Regions from separate parts of the Homo sapiens genome. Here region 1 is reported to be linked to region 2. The links are microRNA targets in miRTarBase. Many come from high-throughput screens and were not tested one by one. Region 2 holds a microRNA gene; the other region holds the end of a gene's coding sequence.
Evidence for each region. Region 2 holds the annotated microRNA hsa-miR-5089-3p (AUGCUACUCGGAAAUCCCACUGA, at 1,907-1,929, shown strand). A microRNA usually pairs through its seed, bases 2 to 8, with sites in the 3' UTR of a target mRNA and lowers its output. Matches are read on the target gene's strand: a 7mer-m8 pairs with bases 2 to 8, a 7mer-A1 pairs with bases 2 to 7 and ends in A, and an 8mer does both.

Region 1 (3,363 bases), not on the chromosome of region 2:
ATGTGCATTCACATACAGATGTGTTTTGAAGTGGGTGTACCTTGCTTTACCTAATAGATGTGTAAATAGAACTTTTGTAAGTCAAATCCCATTGTCACTTTGATTTAAATTATTCCAGCTGTGATGTGTCTTCATTTTATAGCAGTTTGACACTGGAGCTTTTGAGCTTTTTTACCTCACATCTTTTATCAAATAATATTTACTGCTTTGAAAACAGCAACAGCATTGGCCAGTTCAGTAGGGGAAGCTTGCTTTATTAAGACACTCTGGAGAAAGACGTCAGGGAATCCTTGTATATGTCGTGGGAATCAACTCCTCATTTATCTGTTGCGTAAGTTTAAGTTTTTGTGCATCAGTCGGGTTTTCTATATTTTTTTAACTTAACATTTTTTAATATAACCGATTAAAAAGTAGACAGAACAGTAAAATAAACTCCTGTGTGCCTACCATTCAGCTTCCAGCATTCCTCAACTCCCAGCCCCTCTTCCTTCATGTCTGTTTCCCCTCCACCCTCTGTTATATTGAGGCACGTTCCAGATGTCATTGTGCTCATCCAGTAATGTTGCGGCAGGTGTCTCAGGAGGACTGAAAGGCCTTCACTCCTAGAAACATTAGTGGTAATCCCTTCATGTCATCAACTGTCCACTCAAATTTCCACCTTCCTACAAATATCAGCTCTCCTCCCTGTAAATTATTGGTTGGTAAGCCTCTTAAGTCTTAAAAGGTAGGTTCCCCTCCATCTCTTTTTTATACAAAACCAACTTTTTACTAGGCTTTACTTCTGAATTAAATTCAAGCGGCGGCTATTGACAGCAGCAAGAACCTTTGCTGTCCCACGCGTTCCTCCTGCAGTGTTCTCTGTGATGCTGCTTGGAAGGCTGATGGACTGTTCAGCTGGTGTGATGATTTGGGTAGCTCAGAGCCCTCATGGTTGGGGACCTGACACATGAAGAGCCCTGAATATCACTATGGGTGAGTGTGGCCTTACTTTTTGCTGCTTCACATTAACGGTTTGGCTTTGCCTGCAGCCAGTATTCTGACCTTAATGTCACACTTGCAGATGTCAGCCCAGGCTTGGTACAGGGGCAAACCTTTTCAGGCTTGAGCAGAACCCAGTTAGGTTCCGGGTGTTGACTGTTCTAGAAATGGATTTCCAGGACTACATGAGTGGGTTTGTGTGTTTTCCCCAGAAAATCCAGAACTGATGATAAATAGAAATGTGAAAAACTACTTCAGTTACTTGACTGTTTGTTAGTAAAAAAAAATCAGTAATTCATCCTTGCCCACCTAGGTAGGCGGTTTATCCAACTTCTGGGTCTCTTGCCCATGGAAATCACCATCTTGGATCTGTTGCTCTCCCAGAACAGTATTATGAATAGGGCTAAAGGTCAGAATACCCCCACTGCCCTTATGACAGATGGGAACATCTCCCAAATAAGACAGTCTCAAGCATTCATGTAATAAAATAACTTTATTAGAATCAGGAATTTGTTAAAATAATATCCTTCACATATAGCTAAAGTGCAAATTCTCTTGCTCTGTAGTAGAAGCAAGCACATCTGTCAGACCTCCGTGGTGTGCTTATAAAACCAAGACGAGAAGAGTTTTAAGAAGTACCTCTGGCAGCATAAGAGTACGAAAACACATTTTATAAAGGTTTGAACAATTATCATTTGGAGCCATTTCATATATCGTGTATGTCTTTTCACTTATTTTTCTTAACCTTTCAAAAACTACTCTGTGCTATTTATACAACTGAAGAACTGTATAAACTACTTTAGAGCAGTGGCCTCATTACTGTCAGGAACGGAATTACCAAATCAAAGAGACAACACTGCGTATTCGCCATCACTCACACACTGACAAAGTGCAGTAGTGTTAGACATCATGGGCTCTGTCACTGGGAAAGGGACCCAGTGACTTCCACCTCTCTGACTCTAAATAGCAGCAGTCATATTGGCACCTGTACCATATGATTCAAAGAGAAGATTCTACTTCCATTGGATGACAGCTTGGAAACCCGGCCATATTACATAGAGCACTACATCATTTCACAAGTTGCGAGAAAAATAAGGCCACTCCGAGGCAATCTCTTCTGCCTCCCAGGGGGATGGGACACGGGACAGTGCAAAGACCGTGGAAGATGGCAGTAAGTAGATGAAACTCCAGGACCAAAGGGATGCAGCCTGGCCATGGCTGAAGGTTTTTGCTCCATTCAGTAGAAACTGGTGCTCTAATTCATTATCAAAAATGCTTACTTGGTGTCCACATGGCACTTGTTTTCTCAGGTTAACATCTGCCTACAGAAAACTCAGGCAGAGGGGTGAGGGCAGATGCCTACTAGCATAACACCTGGTTTGCAGCACGATACAGGTGGAATGACAAGCCCAGAGAATTTCAGACGAAAACATCTGGCCTGAGTTGCTACAAATGAAGTGTGAGAGAAACGCGGATACACAAAGAAAACCAAACTGCCCGCCCACCATGTTTCCCCCTCCAACATACAGCTCTTTATGGCTACCCCCTATTCTTAATTAGAAAAATAGTCTCAATATGAAAAAAAAAAAAAAAAAAACAGCTGCTGGCACTAAAGTTTGCAAACTATGGCTCAAAAAGTCTTCCTGCAGGTAAGTAAGGAATGTCGGCATTCATTTTCTCTTCTATGAAGTTTGCTTGGAAGTTAGTCACCACTAATCTAAACCTTGAGAAAGTGAGCTTTCAACCATTTCTCTCAGCTGCGACTTGGGTCTGACTTCCCAGTTGCAGTCACAGAACCTCTCAGCCTGTTTCAGAGAAGCACTTGGAGGAGTTATGTCAGTGGCTCTGGGCCCCGTCCCACACCTCTTGGCCGCTCCTCCACCTTAGTGCAAATTCTGCTCCAGAACCTTTGTTCTGGTCACATGGTGGCACTGTTGCCCCTAAAGCACGGCCACCAGCAAGACACAGCAGACACCATACAATACTGACTAGCTTGCTCCAAAGAAGAAAATAAATAGCTTGGTTGAATTATAAGTTATTTTAGAGACAAGGCTTCATAACTTAGTTTTTTTTTTTTTTTAAAACTAAAACATTTGGAGGTAAAGAATGTTTCTCCTTTTGCTTTAGGAAGTGACTAGGTTTCTAGAAATGCTGTTTCTTTTTTTTTTTCCTACCTCAGGACAGCCTTTGTCACTGAGGATTTCTAGGGTTAGGGCTTCACAGGAAGCGTCTCCTTGAACCCAGAGTGGTTGGGTTGGGCTTCTGGCAGTGCCACCGAGTACTCAGTTGTGGCAAAAAGCAGGGTGTCCAGGGTGGTCTCAGTACACTTGGCGATGAAGCGAATGAAAGGCCTCACGTCGCCCTCGTTGGCAGCTTCCAACACGT
Region 2 (3,404 bases):
ACCCATCTCTACTAACATATAAAAATGAGCCAGGCATGGTGGTGGGTGCCTGTAATCTCAGCTACTTGGGAGGCTGAGGGAGGAGAATCACTTGAACTTGGGAGGCAGAGGTTGCAGTGAGCTGAGATCGCACTACTGCACTCCAGCCTGGGCAACAGAGCGAGACTCCTTCTCAAAATTAATTAATTAATTAATTAAAAAGGAAAAATATAATAAGGACACACTCCATGGCTTCTGCAGTCTCTTCTGAGCTGATAGTCAAGGTCCTGGCATGGCTTGGCTCTCCTCCAGTGCTGGGTTAGGGGCTCTGTGACCCAGTGCCCCACCCTAGCCTGGCCTAACTATATCCTTTGCTGACCTTGAACCCCACACAGATCCTGGCAAAGCTGCATGGCTCCATGAATACATGTATGTACATGTAGGAGCTTTTCATGCACTTTCTCACTTAAACTTTCCAACCACCTAGAGAGCTCAGCTAGAGTACCTCACTTTACAGATGAAGAAACAGGCCTTGGAAGGTGAAGCGACTTTCTCTGATGACTGGAAAGTGTGGAGGGAAGTCCTGCACCCCGACCTGCCTGTATCAAAGACTTGTCTCTCACGCCTCAAGCTCTGTGGTTCTGTGCACACCTCACCAGGCCCCCACTCACCCATCTAACATGTGTTTGTTCTGTGTGCATGTTTTTCTTCTGTGTTCTGGGCCACACCTGTTGGGCACCTCTCCCTCCCCGGCAAGGGGGAAGCTTTAGGAAGTAGAGAGAAAGGCAGGGCACAGGGCCTGGCTCTGAGGAAGGGTCACACTTACAGCCAGGCCTGGGGCTGGTGGGGTAGGCAGAGGGCACAGGGCACGTGGGGGAGAGGGGGGACCTTCCCAAGACAGGGAACTGTCTCAACCATAATCACCCTCAGTGTTGCTGCTTCCCCGCTTTATGTTCTATAGAGACACCCGGAGGGGACAGCCTGCTGTGGTGGGCACTGTGCTGGGCCCAGGCTGTGTGCTGACAGAACCCTGGGGCTGGGCTGGGGCAGGAGGCGAGACCCTGGCTTCCTGCTTTGCTTCTCCCGCCACCCGCTTCTTCCTCCTCTCTTCCCTTCTCCTTCCATCCCATCTTCTCCCTGCTGTCCTTTCATATGCTTCCTCTTCCCCCTTCTTTCTCCTCCTCCTCCTCTCCCTTCTTCATTTCTAGTCCAGCTATAGTGGGAAGAAGTCCCTGCAAGGAGCTCTGGCTCTTGGCCAAGAGGGAAGGAGAACCTGGGACAGGAAAGGATTCCCAGCAAAGGGTTGCACACTGGGCACCCCGAGCCCTTGCTGAACCTCAGCTTTGGAGCACAAGGTGGAATTCAGGTTTGTCAGCCTCCCCAGCTCAGCAGGGAACCAGCAGTCTGCACAATGTGACCGTTGGTGACGGATGTTGGCCTCTGCCCATCTGGCTGCATTGCTGTCAACATACAGGTTCCATGTCCCGGGCTTTCTGCCCAGGCACTCCCCTGCAAAGTGAGCCCCAGGAGAAACCCGGGTTTACAGCTGCTCTGTAGCCCCAAACCCTGTACCCCACTGGCTGACGCTGGCTACCCAAAAAGAAATTATTGAGGCACAGAGGATGGCAGCACTCAATCTCCCGTGTGGACGAGCGTCTCTGCAGTCATATTATTAGCATCTCGAGGGCAGAGCCTGAGTTGCCTTCACCTCTGCAACTTCCTTAGCACCCAGCATTAGGAGAGCGACATAAGACACACCTAAAAAATACTGGCACTGACATGCAAACCTAGGTCTTGTACGTCAAGTTTATTAGGAGTGTAAAACTTCTTGTAGTATTCCCTCTAACTTAGCCAGGTGGGAAAGTGTCAAATAAAAAGGACTTCAGTGGGATTTCTGAGTAGCATCCTTGGAATCTGCACTCAAGGGATGCTACTCGGAAATCCCACTGAAGTCCTTTTAATTAAATGTGTGTGCATGTGTGCAACCCACATGTGTACACGTATACCTTGCCCCCAAAACTGGAATGCCGGATGAGGGCCATTTCTGCTGTACCCACTGCCTCTGCCACTCATTAGCTGAGTGTGACCTTGAGCCCATTATCTAACCACACAACCAGATGACAATCTCATATGACAGCTGGCTTGCTCACTCTCACTCTGCTGCTGCTTTTTTCTTTTTCTTTTCTTTTTTCTTTTTTGCCATATAGATGGGGGTCCCACTGTGTTGCCCAGGCTGGTCTCGAACTCGTGGGCTCAAGTGATTCGCCCACCTTAGCCTCCCAAATTACTGGGATTACAGGGATGAGCCACCACACCTAGCCTCTGTTGCTTCGTTGTTGAAAATTGTTGAGATCTAGCGTTCCCCATGGGTTAAACTCTCCTTATCCATGGACTGGAGTGCACTTATCATGGGATCTCAAGTCTAAGTAATAGAACTATGACTGCAAGGGTGAGCAGGCGCTGCCTCAGAACACCCCGCAATGCTGTCATCTCAGAGGCTGGGACACCTGCCCCGTCTGCCGAGCTGGGGTTTGCTGTCCTGGACACCCCGTGTATCTGCTGTGATCTTTATTGACAAGAAAGAATCTTGCTTTCTTGACAAGAATCTGCACTCAAGAGATACTACTCGGAAATCCCACTTAAGTCCTTTTTATTAAATGTGTGTGCATGCGTGCGACACATGTGTACACGTATACCTTTCCCCCAAACTGGAATGCTGGATGGGGGCCATTTCTGCTGTACCCGCCACCTCGCATGCTCCATTCTTTGCCTCTGAAGCCACCCCCAAAGCTCAAGGCTTCTTTCCATCTACTACTGAGTTGGGGTCTGGGGAGGGCGACCCCCAGCAGCCACAGCCGTGCACCCCTCTATGTGAACTTGGCTTAGACAAGTAAGTAAGAAAGTAAGTGGATGTGGTGATGTAAGCCCTCCCTACTTCCCCCGTTCTAGGGGACATCTTGCTGGTGAAGGCACAGCTGACCCCAGAAGTACTATCCCCGACTCAGAGGACAGGATGTGGGGGATTTGACCTAGGCCCTGAGACGCATGGAACCAGCTACCTGGGGAGCAAAGCAAGTGCCAGGGTTTCTGGGGCGCTGGCCAGGGCCAGACGCTAGGTCTGCCATCCGTTGCTCACCCAGTGCCTGGCACAGTGCCTAGCCCACAGGAGATTTACAATAGACACCGGTGGAATGAATGAGCTTGGACAAGATCAGTAAACAGAATCTTAATTTCCTCTCCTATAAACAGGAAATTAGAGGAGCATCTGCTCCTCTTACCAATGTGTTGTGGGGAGCAAAGGAGGTCATCTCCGCCGGGCGCGGTGGCTCACGCCTGTAATCCCAGCACTTTGGGAGGCCGAGGCGGGTGGATCACAAGGTCAGGAGATCGAGAGCATCCTGGCTAACACGGTGAAACCCCGTCTC

Region 1: the mRNA of FICD is a reported target of hsa-miR-5089-3p. Seed matches in the 3' UTR shown: 7mer-A1 at 2,422-2,428.

The regions. Positions count from the first base shown.
Region 1 is chr12:108,519,300-108,522,662 of GRCh38, reverse strand. FICD (FIC domain protein adenylyltransferase) reads right to left here. Exons shown (of 3, transcript NM_007076.3): 3 at 1,453-3,363. The coding sequence ends at 3,188. SART3 (spliceosome associated factor 3, U4/U6 recycling protein) reads left to right here. Exons shown (of 19, transcript NM_014706.4): 19 at 1-449. Among named protein-coding and RNA genes, the nearest start is that of FICD, 5.7 kb to the right of the region's middle.
Region 2 is chr17:46,971,163-46,974,566 of GRCh38, forward strand. It overlaps MIR5089 (microRNA 5089), which reads left to right and starts at 1,855; the gene lies at 1,855-1,938. It also overlaps a transcript of LRRC37A2 not described here and a transcript of GOSR2 not described here.